Regions from separate parts of the Homo sapiens genome. Here region 2 is linked to region 1. Evidence: fine-mapped expression QTL. Tissue or cell type: whole blood. Region 1 holds a variant in brackets; the other region holds the start of a gene. All regions are shown on one strand. Distances are between the middles of the regions.

What was found. PIP is the estimated chance that this variant, and not a neighbour inherited with it, causes the effect.
Region 2: it holds the start of GLS, and the variant in region 1 is fine-mapped to the expression of GLS in whole blood (TOPMed, PIP 0.93).

What each region holds. Positions count from the first base shown.
Region 1 is chr2:190,975,676-190,983,782 of GRCh38, reverse strand. STAT1 (signal transducer and activator of transcription 1) reads left to right here. Exons shown (of 25, transcript NM_007315.4): 17 at 43-141; 18 at 1,265-1,400; 19 at 3,114-3,163; 20 at 3,917-4,011; 21 at 4,782-4,927; 22 at 6,758-6,943; 23 at 7,896-7,971. Among named protein-coding and RNA genes, the nearest start is that of STAT1, 34 kb to the left of the region's middle. The variant A/G (reference allele first, on the strand shown) is at 3,764.
Region 2 is chr2:190,876,267-190,884,373 of GRCh38, reverse strand. GLS (glutaminase) reads right to left here and starts at 3,553. Exons shown (of 18, transcript NM_014905.5): 1 at 2,904-3,553. The coding sequence starts at 3,289. LOC124906110 (a long non-coding RNA gene) reads left to right here and starts at 2,386. Exons shown (of 2, transcript XR_007087791.1): 1 at 2,386-2,461; 2 at 2,806-8,038. RefSeq lists enhancers at 2,076-2,265, 1,430-2,629, 4,026-4,165 and silencers at 2,586-2,895, 2,956-3,045, 3,096-3,155, 3,496-3,755.

The sequences.
Region 1 (8,107 bases):
TTCTGTGATTCAGATGATTTCAAGGTCTTTGTCATCCTTTAGACGACCTCTCTGCCCGTTGTGGTGATCTCCAACGTCAGCCAGCTCCCGAGCGGTTGGGCCTCCATCCTTTGGTACAACATGCTGGTGGCGGAACCCAGGGTATGGAAAACACATTTGCTTTGGTCCCAGGGTTAAGCAGAGACCCCACGCTCTCACTGCTGCATCTCTGAAATAGCCCCAATGGCCAGTTGTTAAGGGAGAAGTGACAAAGCTCCTGTGGTATTTCTAAGGCTTTTGAGTAAATCTGGGAATATGAAGCATGGATATGTATTTGAAATGAGAATTACGTTTTTTCTCCCATGTGGGTAAGCTAGGGCAGTCAGTGATTCCATACCACTTTATTGTTATTATTTTTAAAATGTATACATCTACTAAACAAGCATGCTCCATTCTTAGAGTGTGGATACTCACTGTTAATTAATTACAGTCATTTATAATTATTCAAAGTACTTATGTTTTTTAAAGTCACCAGGAACACTTAACTAGCAAATAATGAATTGTTGCTCCTAAGGGAACTACGAGGCTAGGTTCCTTCAAGCCTCTGGTCACAACATTTTTGTCAACCCATCAATGCATAACATTGTTTATGTGTGTTTCTGTTTAAAGACACCTTATCTAATACACTTGTTGAGGCATTAACATTACACCTATAGCTAGGATCACTGTAACTCATGCCTGAGTGAAGCTTGCCTCACACATGTATTTTCTCCATAAGGCACATCCCAGCCTTCCCATGCTTAGGAACAGTAGACCACACTGTGGTACTATGCTCGGGCACCATTTTAAACAGGGATCACCAACAGCAGTCACAAAATGCAAAAAACATGGCGCTAAATAGGCTTCAAAAAGGACACGTTTTTCTTATGAGAGGTGAAACAGGAAGCGAGTGTCATTTTGTTTGGCTTCAGTTGGAAGCGTGTTAAGAGACTCGAATTCTTTGCTGCTGTGTGCTGCTGTGTGTGCACGGGTGTGTCTTCAAATGACCCCAAAGATGCCATGTATTTAGATTTTGGAGTTACAAGTAAATTTTAGTGAGTAAACAAGTTCACAAATGTGCATCTGTAAATAATGAAAATTGACTGTATTTCTCTTCCCCTACTGTGAAAGCACCTGTGTGTCATATAAACTAGAATTGAACTTTGGGATGGACATATGTTTTAGTGCCACACTTGTGACTGGTGTCTCTGTAGTAACCCTTAGATTTTGGGTGTTTTCTCTCTAGAATCTGTCCTTCTTCCTGACTCCACCATGTGCACGATGGGCTCAGCTTTCAGAAGTGCTGAGTTGGCAGTTTTCTTCTGTCACCAAAAGAGGTCTCAATGTGGACCAGCTGAACATGTTGGGAGAGAAGCTTCTTGGTATATGCATATTAACTTGTTATGTTTATAAAAATTGAAATTCATAAAAATATCTCTCTAATTGCTCTTTTCCCCTCTGCTATTTTGTTAAAGGTAAAAAAGTACTAAAATCTGTCAGCTTTTCAAGCTATAGTTTATTATAGCTAAGTGAGAATCATATGTCACCTTAGAAAGAAATATAGACCTGATAACATTTAAATGAATCCGTTCCTCATTGTCTCATATTAAGATTTCTGAGATGAATTCCCAAGGGAAAGTTTTATGAATTATGTAAAATATATTATTTGTGGCTGAAATAAGTTCCTGGATGAGAAAGATGAAGGCCTATTAACCATTAACCTTGGGGAGAAAAAAGGAAGTCCCTGACATGATGAGAAATAAAGTCCTGGGGCTTGCCCACTGCAGCATAAACCCAGGGCCCTTGCCTCAGGTGGGGCCCAGGTAGCAGAGGATGCCGTCCCCACAAGAGGATGCCTCTTTTGATCTGCAGTTTTGCCTGATTGGACAGAGTCTAGACAGTGGTAGATAATTCCCTTTCAGTGGTTAATGTCAGTGCATTTATTAGTCCTTCATACTAAACAAATCAAAGATCCACTAGTCTCAAGGTCAGATCTTTCAGTGAGTGAGGCTATCTGAACTATTTCTTTAAAAATCCGTGGACAACTTGTATCCAGATTTGCTTTCTGTAGAGCAGCACTGCATTTACTCCAAACAGCAGTAGGCTCTTCCTAACTCAGTGACTTTCAACAGTGCCTTCTTCTCTTGGATATGCAGCTGTCACAGTGGTGGTCTTGTGCTGTTTAATACAAGTACAAAATCCCCTTATTCCATTTCTTTATTTGGTGAGAGTTAAGAAGGATATCTTTTCTAGCTGTAATGGCTCATTTGTAGTTCTCTTTGAAGACCGATAATGGGCTTACCGCCTCTTCTCGCCCAGGCTGCTTTAATTTGTGTAGCTAATAACCCCGGGCTTCTTCCTCTCGTTTCTCTCACTTGGTTTTTGATTTGCATCAGACTGCCTGAGCCCATGTCCTATTTGGAGGAAAGCTGAGGGAAATGCATAAATAATGTCTAAAATAAACTTGTAAAGTCAAGTATCAGTTACATTGAAGATCTAGGGGTGATCTTGGGCACCTAGGTTGAACTTTGAAAAAAATTCTGTAGGATCCTTGGGAGAGGGGGCTCTGCTGAGCAGCAGAGGAAGGCAGTGGGAAGAGGCACTGGATAGGGAGGCTTCTCTAGGAGGCCCAGCAGAACACCTTTGATTTAGTGCAAAAGGCAAAGTCAGCTGATGGTCTTGGAAGGAAGTGTAACATGAAGAGGCATTAAAAGGACTGTCCTCTCTTTAGAGGAGGGAGGGAAAAGGGGGGCTGGGGAGGGAGAGAGCAGATGGTAAGGCTTTGTGATGTTTCCGCTTTCCCTAAAAACTCTCATATCGTGGTGCCCAGGAATCTGCCATCCATTCCTTTCTGCCATTAAACTCAAACCAACATATACATATTTTAGACCATTTAAATTCCGCCCTCTTACAGCACGTATTATAATTGCTCAGTTAATTTGGCATTAAGGTATCCGAAAATGTCAACTGTGTACATACAATCTTTGTTGGGTGTTTGGCTCTTTTCCTTGAGAGCAAATACAAGAGCCATCCGTCCAACCAAAGCTTTAGAATCAGTTTCTGTTTGCTGAAAAATCTGGTTTTTATTTGTTTAGGTCCTAACGCCAGCCCCGATGGTCTCATTCCGTGGACGAGGTTTTGTAAGGTGAGGACTGTCTGGGTTTTATGCTCTCTAAGTCCTTTTTGCTCTTGGTTGAGGTTCTCATGTTTCTTGCTGTGATAGTTACTTAACTGTTTGCTTATTTTGGCGTGTTCTTCTCTGGCCAAGGAGCCCCTCGGGCAAGTTGTTTACTTTTCTTCAGTGCAGGAGGTTGGTCTCCGAGCAGGAGTCTGACAGGAAGCACCTGCCTGAGTGATAACATTCTTTCATATCTGAAATGAGGCTTCTGTTCACTCACGCTGGACCCCTGCCCAGCAGTGTTTTAGCCATTTCTGTGTGAAATGTATGTTGTGGGCTGGGTGGCGCAGCCTGACCAGCCAGACGAGTTTAACGGCCTGCTCGAGCAGAGGGGCCCACTGCGGGGAACATTTAGATTCTGCTGGAGTCACCAGACAGTGCGGACCAGCTTGCACTGCTGGATTTTGCTAGTGTGGGGCAGCTTGTGTTTCCGTGAGTCACGCTGGAGGTCACCCCCAGGCTAGCTTGCTACTGTTTGGAAAGGGAAGCAGAGCCCGGCCCAGGGAAGTGGAGAGCTCTGGAGAGCTCCTGGTCTGAATGCTGATAAGAGCGGGGAGGGAACTTGAT[A/G]TTCCCTGCCAGGGGAGGGATCCCATTGCTGTGCTGAATGGGACAGTTCCATCCTTGGCACCTGGGGAGTCTTTGCAAATGATGGTGGGAGGGGCCATGGTAAGTCATTGTTTTAGATTTTTGTTCATAATGTCTGCATTTGTATACTTTCAGGAAAATATAAATGATAAAAATTTTCCCTTCTGGCTTTGGATTGAAAGCATCCTAGAACTCATTAAAAAACACCTGCTCCCTCTCTGGAATGATGGGTAAGGGCCACCGATAGATGTATTTTGAAACATATTTTTAGTGCTGCGAGGTTGAGACAAGGCCTGAGTCCAGCTTCAGTATTTGACTAGGCGTGTGTGAATCTCACAGGAGTGCGCATTTATAGGCTGCCCCTTCAGGGCTTCAGAAGAGTAGAACCTCATAACATTAACCTTACACTTTCTTAGTACAAGTATATGTATTGGCAAAGCTAAATTAAAAAAAAAAAACAACTCTTGAGTGCCATTCATGCATTCATTCACTCAACAAAAATTTTTTGAGCACCTACTATGTGGCCCCTAGGAAGGAAGAAAAACCCTTTTAACTGGGTAAATCATTTCTATCTTGACTTATTGCCAGGATCGGCTGATATTTCAACAGAAGCTTTAACTTGATCAGAAGGGCTAAAATATGAAAATATATTGCCTAGGTCTTCCTCTCCAGTAAAAAAGATGTATACATTCAGACATTGTTATGGCCTTTAAAATAATAAAGGAACAATAAAAGGCTCATTAATCCCACACGTGTTATTGAGCATCTGTAGCATCCTACTGACACCATGTTCATATCGCTTTTTTTAAAACCTTAGTATATACATGTATAAGTGAAATGCTTCCTTAAGTGTCAACTGAACAGATTTTAAAATAGTCTACGTTTTTTACCGTAGGTTTTTTTTCTCACATTCCAGCCATTTTCTTGGTTTGTAAGTTAGCATGAAAATGGAAATCATGATTGAACTAAAAGCCCATCCGTCCATCTCTTCGATATCCAGGTGCATCATGGGCTTCATCAGCAAGGAGCGAGAGCGTGCCCTGTTGAAGGACCAGCAGCCGGGGACCTTCCTGCTGCGGTTCAGTGAGAGCTCCCGGGAAGGGGCCATCACATTCACATGGGTGGAGCGGTCCCAGAACGGAGGCGGTGAGTGGGAGTTTGAGCACATAGTCCCACCATTCCATGTGTGTGAAGTCCCTCTTCATCGCCGCCAGTCAGCTCATACAGATAGTGCGTTTGGGACATGAAATTGCAGATCTTATACTTACCCCAAATGAGCCCCCGATAGGATTTAATAAACCACCACAAATGTTTGTGGTTGTGGTTCACTCTCTGGAACATATTGTGGAAATGATGGTTTTGAAAAGACAATGCCAATTCTTTCCTTTGCATCAGGTTTGTTATCTGCAGATCAAGGATGTGAGTCAATGTAATCTGCAACCCGTTCTTGGAAGGAATCACATTTCCCACAGGAGTAAGCATCCACATTCTCTTAGGGTCATCCCAGAGTAGAGTGTGCAGATGAGACAGGCTTCGGGAGAAGACTTCATACACATCATCAGCCAGGGAGTTGATGCAGGACCTGTTGGGACGAGTGGCAGCCTCTACCCTGCCTTCAAACAGAGCAGCTGCAAATTTATCTTTATCATATATGGGGTTTCTATTTAATCAAATGAGTCCATGGCTAAAAGACTCCAGAAACCTTGGTGTTATGAAGCAGGTTTCTGAGGGTGAAGCTCAACAGCGTAAATGAAAAAATCATAAAGACCAACTGATTACTTTTCACTGTTGTTTAGAGTTTGGTCTGTTTGAAGGGCAGGAGGAAAAACTGATTTGTTTTAGTAATTTTTATACTTTCAGTGGGTAGACACAAAATGGAATACTCTTCTTGTTCTATTTATTTTTCTGAAATATTCCTCTTCTCCTGTTTTTCTGGAATACTCTTATTCTATTTGTTTTTCTGCCATACTCTTCTTGTTCTGTTTGTTTTTCTGGAATACTCTTCTATTTTTTTTTTCTGGAACGGTATTCTTTCTTGTTCTGTTTATTTTTCAGGAATACTCTTCTTGTTCTATTTGTTTTTCTGGAATACTTTTCTTGTTCTATTTTTCTTCTGAGGAAAAAGCAGGGAGGCTGAGATGAGAGTCTGGCGTGGGCAGTAGTCATTAGAACCTGCCCTTTTCCTCTTATCCTGTTCCCTTCCTGAACCAGCTGAGAGACAGATATAGTAGACCAAGCAGAGATGAAGAAAACCCTTGGCAACCAGGAAAGGTCAAGCAGGACACTACCAGCCAGGAAGGGTTAGGATGGCAGCATAGTCTCATGTTCCACAGCAGGCTCCCCAGAACACCTGAACCGTGGCCTCTGGAAGGTCGACACCCAAAGGGAGATTCTGTATCAGCTAGGAAGAAGGATCTGAATTCAGTCTGGGAATAAGAACGGGAGTAAATTAAACCATGGTTTATTACGTTAAGGGTTACAGGGAAATGTAGCAAATAGGATCATTTTTAATTTGAAATGTTGTTTTCTATATATCATAATTTATTTTAATAAAAAATTAGATTTTTCAATATGAAAAGAAAAACAAAGTGAGTTTATCTCTAGTAATTTAAATCTGTGGCTTAAGCCAAGATGATCCACTTAGTAGTAAGTTATTTATGTGCCTATGGGCAGCACATCATTGAAGATGCAGGCTTTTAAAGGTTTTTAATAAATCTTTTTTGCCCAGATTTATAAATCTAAGCAAATAATGGCAAATAGAATGTTATTGAGAATAATACCTCCCTTTATTTTCCCTGAGACAGTATTATAATTTATTTAGAAATAAAGCAGTCTACTGTATATGTTATAATGCTTAGATTGTGATTAGTTCTTATGAGGTTCACTCAAATCCATCAACTCTGCAGTGTTTTATTTCTCTGTCCTCTTTCATTTTGGGATGTTCTATGGGATTTACTTAGCTTTTCTCCTTTTTAGAACCTGACTTCCATGCGGTTGAACCCTACACGAAGAAAGAACTTTCTGCTGTTACTTTCCCTGACATCATTCGCAATTACAAAGTCATGGCTGCTGAGAATATTCCTGAGAATCCCCTGAAGTATCTGTATCCAAATATTGACAAAGACCATGCCTTTGGAAAGTATTACTCCAGGCCAAAGGAAGGTAAGTGGGGCAAGCAGGTGGTAACAGCGTGGCACAGTCTTTCCTGATGAGGGGGTGATTATTCTGAAACTCCACCCATGCAGTGTTTTGCTTTCGAATTGGTAAGAGTAGGCTTTCAAAAGATGGCATAAACTCAGTGCAGGTGAAACATAATGCATTATTTGGCCTGATACAGCTAGTAAGAAATGAATGGACAATTTCCTATTTTAGGAATGTTGGAAAAGTCCATTGCTGGTCTTGTGTATTTGTTACTATCACTGTTTCCACATGAAAAGGGTTTAAATAAGGAACTGTGGTAAACCAACAGAAGGCATCTTGCTCACGTTAAAGTTGAGGAAACTGAGGCCTGGGAGAAGTGAAGTGGTTCATTTAGGGTGGCCCAATTACTTACTAGATCCTATTTTTATTAGATAATTATTAAGAGGAGGCCTCATCTGAGAACACAGGTCTCTTGCTTCTCAGTTGTCAATGAATTGCATTTGAGAAGGTTCGAATTAGACCTGTTTTGTTTGGAACACACCAACAAAGCTGTTTTTCAGAATCAGAAATCTCAATATTAGGACAATTACTTTGGAATGAAGATGTCCCCAGCTTACCTTGACAGCTGTGAATATTCATTAGCCAGGCTAATGCCAATAAACTGGATAGAACTTTGCATATTTTGGGCTCAGACTTCTTGTAAGATTTCAAGTTGTGTAAAGAGAAAGCTCCTAGCTAGTGTCCTGCTGAACACTAGCTTATTTCCAGACTGAATTCAGATCCTTCTTCTCGTTGTTTCTGCATTCCCACTAGAATTTTAGGTGACTCAGGCAGGGAGGTTATAGCTCCTTAAAGTTTTAGGAGGCTAAGCTGTCTAGAAACACAGTAGAACTTTAATCCCCCCGAAAAGTTGATGTTGTATTCTGATGGAATTTCGGTTGATGGAAAGCGTACACAATGTGTTTATTTCTAGCACCAGAGCCAATGGAACTTGATGGCCCTAAAGGAACTGGATATATCAAGACTGAGTTGATTTCTGTGTCTGAAGTGTAAGTGAACACAGAAGAGTGACATGTTTACAAACCTCAAGCCAGCCTTGCTCCTGGCTGGGGCCTGTTGAAGATGCTTGTATTTTACTTTTCCATTGTAATTGCTATCGCCATCACAGCTGAACTTGTTGAGATC
Region 2 (8,107 bases), 99 kb after region 1:
AGAAAAGAATGAATATCAGGGTACAGACTTAAAATTTGAAGTCATTGAATATGTGGCGACAAATTTAAGAACAGAGCTTTGGATTAAGAGGTGAAGTATTACCTACACAAAGATGAGAGTCAAAGCTGAAAGAAGGGATACGCTGTTGAGAAGGCAGACAAGTGGGAAAGGGACAAAGGCCTCAGCCTCAGGGTTTTTACCCAGTGAGGAAATTCAAAAAGAACTAGGAAAGAAGAGAGAACAATTTTGAAAACGAAGAGAGGCAAGCAAAGTTGGTTTTCAAGATAACAGAATGAACCATAACAAAATTAAATAAGATCACTAAAGACAAAACTGAGCAAAGATCATTAAATTTTTCTATGTGATATTAAGACGTTCGTATCCTAAACCACACTAAAGTTGCGTGATGGAAACAGCATAGTCTAAAGTGACATTAGTTCAAAGAGTTTGTGAAAAAAAGGTAAAGTAACTTGCTTATATCACGCCTCCTTCCAGAATATAAAGTAAATAAAATATAAACTCAGGACCAAGGAAAGGAGGAAACGCAGATATCCCAGCCATGTGAACTGATGAAATTGGTGTGGTTAAGCATTAAATTTACTCTGAACTTATTTATCAGCAGAGCAAAAGGTAAACAGTGCAACTCACATAGTTTCATATAAGACAGATGTATAGCAATTTCTCAAGATAAACATTTTTGTGGAAACTAAAAAAATTAAAAACCTTCATGTGCAAGCCTGAAATTCCAAGGCCAATCTCTTTAACAGGCTTTACAATAATGAAGAAGCAATGTTTTCTCATTTATTTAATAAATAGTTATGTGTCATTTAACACACGCCAAATATTGTTCTAAGCCTTTTACAAAATGTTAATTTAATTTTCTCATGGTTATTTCTTTTAATAATACTACATAAAATCTGGCACAGTCCTGAGTGAGTGCTAGCATACCAGGTGGACTGCTGACTGAGGGATGACCTATGCTTTGCAGGCTAAGCATTAGAAAGGATAACAGGATCAACTGGGAGCTTACCTCCCAGGATAAGAGAAATGTTTGTCACATAAAGGCAAAATGAAAGGAGCCAAAGAGGGAAAGCTACATTTGGAAACCAGATCATTAAGGAAATAGAAACTTTAACCAAATTAAAAAACTTTCTTCACAACCTTGAGGCCCTTGCTAAAAGGTGATTTTTTATTAAAAAGGCAATGAAACCAGAAACTTCTGGACAAGTGAATCACAGAAGAAGCTCAATTTCCTGTTTGACAAAAGAGGAAAAAAAAGAGAGGCACTAGAGCCACTGCAGAGACACAGACCTGAAGACATAATTTTACTAGAATGCAGTTCCCATCTTGTAGCCTTTAAGATGAACTTTTAAACGGTTGTGACTGCATTTTGCAATTCTGTACCTTGGGCACTTGCATGTAAACTCGTTACTTCCTTGGTAAACCGGATGATGTTAAAGTAAAAGTGAGTCCCAGATGAGATTAAATTATCATTCTAGTCCCTAAAACATGAGAGAAGTACAAATTTAACAGAAGTATAGCTTTTTAGAACTTGAAAGGATTTAAGTCATCTAACCCAAGATATTAAATAACCTGTCCATGGTCAGGACGCTATTTTGTGGCACAAAACCAACATCACAAAATACCACAAATTTCGCCCATCATCAAGTGATTTTTTTCAAATAATCTTTTTCAGTCTGGGAGAAGAACTTTAGAAAAGTTTCTGGAAGGTCCCAACTTCAATTACAGGAAAACATCAAGCAGGCGTGAGATTGAAATTATAACAATGTTCTCACTTTCAGTTTGACTTAAGGAACTCTAGAGCTGGAAATAGCAGCAGAAATAAAAGGGAAGCAAAACAGGTTAGAGTGTCAGCGTACAAAGCCAGAAAAAGAGTAAGGTATAATGAAAGCAGATCCGTAAATTTTTACCCATTTTGGGAAAACAAAGTGGTCCATTTGTATTACACAAGACAAAAATATATAGGAGACTGCTTTGCATATTGTTTAAGAAAAACCAGTTTTGCTTTAAGACTAAACTACTGTGCCGTACACATACAGGATGAGTCAACATCCTATCACAATGAAGTCACAAAACCTACTCAACTCAGATTTTTCACTGAGTTAGTGTATTACGTCACATTTCATCTTGGCTATTTAACTTTTATTTCTAAAAATCTCCCCATCTCACGGAAGACCTGACAAGCCAAAGCTGGTCCCTTATGCAAACAGGTGGTCTATACTGCGTGCCCCATCTTCTCGGCCACATGACCGGATTCCTCCTAATCTCACTTCTGAAACATTGTTTCCGGTGCCCCAGATGGCTCTACACGTGCCTGAGGTAGCCACTCCCGAAATATAAAGAGCTCTCTGTCACATCTGGCTTCCAACCGGATGATGGCAGAAACCAAGGGAGGGCAGGCAGAGCGGAAACGAGCCAGGAAAAGCGACAAGTCAGGAAGGTAAAGGCTCTGCTGAACGCCCAACTCCTAAATGTCACTCGGTGGAGATGTTCGTGCAGCATCGCCCACGAATGGCTGGGGCGGGCGGCCAGGCGCTGCAGCCGCAAGCCAGGGAGCTGAGCACGCAGCGCGGGCAGGGGAGCGGCCTCTCTGGCGCTGGGGACGCCAGGCGAGCCCATCAGGCCCCACCGCGGCCCCACCAGGGCGACCCCCGCCGGGGGCGGAGAAGGGAAGTGGGTGCCTGGCGGAGGGTTGCGGGCGGGGAAGGCGCGGGCGGGGCCGGGCCTAATCACATGGCGCAGACGGCGCAGGCCGCCCGGCACCTCTTTCTTTCTCTTTTCTAGACCCTCGGCTCCTATCCCGCCCCACCGCAGGGCCCCACACAGCCTGAGCCCGGGCCCCGAAAGGAACGAGGCCTCCTGCGCCTCGCGGAGACACTCACTTTTCACCTGAGGCCACCAGCTCTTTGCCCTCGCTGTTGCCAAACGCGTCCGTCTCCCCGGGGCCGTCCTTGGGGCCGGGCGCCGCCGGGGCAGCGGGTGGCGACACCCCGGGCTGCGGATGCGTGCTCCCCTTGCCCAGCTCCTGCAAGATCTCCGAAGGAGAGCTGGACAGGCCCCGCGCGAGGGGCTCCGCCGGCCAGCCGCCCCCGCCCCACCACGGGTGGAGTCGCGCGGCGGCAGCCGGGCCCGCGGCCGGCCGTCCCCCGCCTCGGGGACGCCGGCACAGGGTGACCAAGGGCTGTGCCCGCCGCAGAGTCGCGCTCACGCCGGCGGGCGACCGCAGGAGCAGGTCCCGCAGCATCCCCGAGCCTCGCAGCCGCATCATGCCGCCGGGTCCGTCAGCGCCCGCTCAACAGGGGAGGATGCTCCGGGCGTGGGCGGCCGGTTTCCTCGGGGAACGCGGTCTGTGGTGGGGCGGTGAGATGACAGAAGAGGAAAGGGCAGCTACTTGGGTGTGGTTCCGGCTCGGACTCCCGCAGCGGATGCGGGTGCTGCTGCTGCTGCTGCTGCTGCTGCTGCTGCTGCTGCTGCTGCTGCGCGCTAGGATTGCCGCGACCGGTTCTCTTCGCTCCGCCTAAGGCTCCGCACTGAGGCTAAAGCGCAGGGGAGGGCTAGAGACCTTCAGCGCTCGCCGACGGCCCGCCCCTTTCGCCCGCTGCGATTGGCTCAAATCCTCGACCTCTCTTTTGATTGGCGATTAGGGCAGTCAAATTTCTCTCGGCTCTGGGTGCGCGGAGAGTAGGGCGGGGGATTGGTGGGGGGCGGGGAGAGGAGTCAAACTGACGTGTGAAGCGGGTGAGCCAGGCCCGGCTGCTCAGTAGCCACTTTCTGCACGCCGTGCCAACTCCGAGGCTAGCCTAGTTGGGTACTAGGGGCTCTGGGTTCTCGCATTTATGAAGCAGTGGGCTCCTCCACTCTGGGAATTCGAGCTGTTGGGGAGACTCATGGGCGAGATCCCCCGCAGCCGAGGGCAGTGAGGTCAGCAGGTTTGGCAGGGCTGAGTCTGGCCGAGCTGTCGGAACTCAGCCGATCCCAGCTCGCATCTGGCCCCCAGGTCAGGGCGTCTGGCGACTCCTCCGAGAGCAGCCCCGGACAAGCTTCATCCCTCTCCCAAATGTAACATTTGCTTGAAACTTTCCATGATTGGCTACTACCCAGACGTGAAGTGTTTTGGAAAAAATGAGCAAAATCCTTTCAGCTATGCGACTTAAGCCATGGGAGGGTGGAGGTGGAGGGAGGGCGACGAGTGGCGAGGCGGGGTGGGGGGGTTGCGGAATCCAGAATACGACAGCTTTCTTTTTTAAAAATTATTTTTTTTAAATGTACACCGATACTTCAAAAATAGTTTTGAATAGCAATGATTCCGTTAACGCTATTTGCTTGAAAGCAAAACTGTAGATACTTTTCTATTTTAAAAACTGCTTCACTGTTTTAAAATAGAAGCGTTGGAATACGGGTTCTCTAAGTTATTTCAGCATCACTTTATCCATTTATCCTTTTGGACCTGTGGAAAAACAGCCAAGAACCTGATAAACTGAGTTATTCCCTGAGGCTACATACACATTACATTCCAGGACAAAAAAATGTTTTTAGACTATTTCCTGAAACAATTAGGTTTAAATGGAGTAGATCCACAGAGTTTAATAAGATGTTTTGGGGGTTGGTGTGTTGTTACTGTGTTGTTGTGTGTGTTCGTTTTGAGAAAGGGTCTCACTCTGTCGCCCAGGCTGAAGTGCAGTGGCGCGATCACGGCTTACTGCAGCCTTGAACTCAGGGGCCCCGGTGATCCTCCCACCTCAGCCAGCACCTGCTTTTTTTTTTTTTTTTTTTTGTATTTTTGGTAGAGACGGGGTTTCGCCAGGTTGCCCAGGCTGGTTTCGAGGGATCTGCACCCCCTGGGCCTCCCAAATTGCTGGGATTACAGGCGTGAGCCACCACGCCCGGCCTAATGAGGTGATTTTTATGAAACTAGAAGGGTGTATGTCAGGTGCATCATTAATTGATAACCGGATTTAGTAATCTAGTGAACTGTAAAATATTTCAATAGATTAATAATTAGGAAATCTGGCTGTACCTACAGGTTATGTGACCTTTGGCATGTTACAGCCTTGCCGTGTTTTAAGTTTTTTTTTTCTATCTGCTCTTTAACCAGAAGAACATGGAAAAAACTATCATGTGTAAAACATAGTCACCTTTTTTATTTAAAAAAAAAAAAGCAGGACAATGGGAAAGTACTTAGATAGCTTTTATTACTAATGTTACTTGTCCAAAAATGTTGATGAATCAAAGTAATGATATATTCAGGAATAGAGACATCAAGTTTCAGAGGAAAGGTAACAAATATTACCCCTGCCTAACCCTGACTTGTTAATGACTTGCAGACTTTAATATTGTCCAATATATTAGCTGCAATTAGTTATCAATTTTAACTGCCTCTTTTTTCTCAACAACACAAAGCAACTGACAATCCAGTTACTGTTTTCCTCTCAGTTTCTCCCTTAATTTCTCTGAGTTTCTTATGAAAATTGTTTTAGATATTTAAAGGTTTAAAGGCTTTATAGTTCACTTAACAAATAAGAAAGCTAACCTAGTAACAGATTATTTTCTAGAGTTTCTAGTTTCTAGAGTTTTATTTTCTGGTAGTTTCCAGACTTTCTGCTTTTGGTGAGAATGGATAGATATTACTCCCAAAATTTGGAAGAATTGAGTCCACTGAAATTTAACCCCTTGTTTGAGAAGGCTAATGAAAAGGTTATAGACAGCAAAGAAACTATTATAAATAGAATAAAAATGTGACTCAATACTTTCATTTGATTCTTTTCTTCATCTTATATAATTTTTTAATCTTTAAAGATATTTTTATCTACAACTTTGTAACCATTACACAACTTTGAAGTTTCAGTTATGTTAAATTGAATTATATCATTACATAAACTCATGTAATCATCATGTAAAAAGTATAAAAACATTTGTATACATACAATAAGTAGTCCACCAAAATATCTACAAATAGAAAAATGCTCTCCACATTAACTATGGTTGGGTTGTCAGATCTACTCTTCGACTTCCTTTTTGCTCCTAAGTGCAGCTACACTACAAAGAGTTGCTGTCCCATAGCCATCATCAGGTAATCAGCCATCAAAAGGAATAATTGGAATTTGTGCACTTTGTGTCTGTTCTAACTTGAAGAAAGGTTCCTGTGCTTCTATGTTCCTGAGCTTCTTTGTTCTGTCGAAGATTACAAAAGGCTAATGTTTCAAGATCATAATAAAATCCATATATAGGCCGGGCGCGGTGGACTCACACCTGTAATCCCAGCACTTTGGGAGGCTGAGGCGAGCAGATCACAAGGTCAGGAGATTGAGACCATCCTGGCTAACACGGTTAAACCCCATCTCTACTAAAAATACAACGATTAGCTGGGCGTGGTGGCACACACCTGTAATCCCAGCTACTTGGGAGGCTGAGGCAGGAGAATCACTCAAACCTGGGAGGCCGAGGTTACAGTGAGCCAAGATCGCACCACTGCACTCCAGCCTGGCAACAGAGCGATACTACATCTCAAAAAATAAAATAAAATAAGATAAAATAATATATATATATAGAAATTCCAGATTGCGCCTTCACAAAAACTAGTAGATTATTTGTTGACCTAGAACTAAAAAGAAAGTAATTTTCCTTTGACTAACAGCTTAAAAGAATTGCCTAAGCCTTTTTTTGAAATTCTTCTGTTTGGAGAATAGAGTAAGGTTCAGGAAGCCTCTAAACAAGCTTCTGCTACTACTTCCCTTTCTTCTGTTGGTTTCCTGCTTTAACTGGCCAAATTCCTAGCCTCACTGATAAGCCCTGCCAAACATGGCTTATTTTTCCAATACTGAATATAGATGTGTACCAAAGTAAGTATGGTAAATCCCTCATCTATAAAAAGGGGATAATATGGCCAGGCAAGGTGGCTCACGCCTGTAATCCCAGCACTTTGGGAGGCCGAAGCAGGTGGATCACCTGAGGTCAGGAGTTCAAGACCAGCCTGGCCAACATGGTGAAACCCCATCTCTACTAGAAATTCAAAAAATTAGCCAGGCATGGTGGTGCATGCCTGTAATCCCAGCTACTCGGGAGGCTGAGGCAGGAGAATTGCTTGAACCTGGGAGGCAGAGGTTGCAGTGAGCCGAGATCTAGCCATTGCACTCCAGCCTGGGCTATGAGAGAGCAAGACTCCATCTCAAAAAAACAAAGGGGGGCGGATAATATTGGTACTTATAGGGTTGTTGTGTGGAATAAATAAACAACACATATAAAGCACCCAGAATAATGACAGTAGCACTCTGTAAGTGTTATAGCTGTTATTATCAAACCATAGGTGAATAAATTTTGACATGCAATGTGATCAGTTTTTACACTTATTGTTGAAAAGCCAAACAATTGTTTTAAACCATCTAATAATAAAATACCATTTAAGGGGAACCTAGAGATAATTTACTTACTTCATTTTTAGAAAATAAACCAATAATTTTCAAAGTATCTTAAAATAGAAAAAGATAAAGACAGTCAGATTAAGAAAAGCTGGGCTCAGTGCCCAAAGTAACAGCTATTCACAAATAGCTAAAAAAAAAAAAAAATTCCAGAGAAGGAAGAATCGCTAAGAAAGCAGTCCTTGAATATACATGTCATATACAAATACCTTAACATATAGCAATTAAATCTAAAAATATATCATTTGCCATCTATGTAAATGAAAGTATACCTCTGTTCATTGTGACATCATATAAAATGACAAGAGATATTCATCAAATTTGAGCAGCATATCTGAATGATCTGCCTTAAAATACTAACTATATGAAGTTCTTTTTGAGAGTTTCCTGATGGCCGGAGTGGGGGTTGGGTGGGAATCAGTTATTTTTCTCCACTTAGAGTAATATGATAAAGATTTCAATTAGTGGAGTTTGTAAGGTAATATTGTTTATATTTACACCACCATTATATTTATGGGGCCTCCAAATATTAATTTTTTAAAGTGATTTTAATGCTTATTTTTCTGTGGATTCATATTAAAAATAAATCAGGCTAAACCCCAGCCCAGAGTTAAGAAAGTCTTTCTTGTATATTAGCAAAACCTAAAAAAAACTGATTTTGTATATAGTCC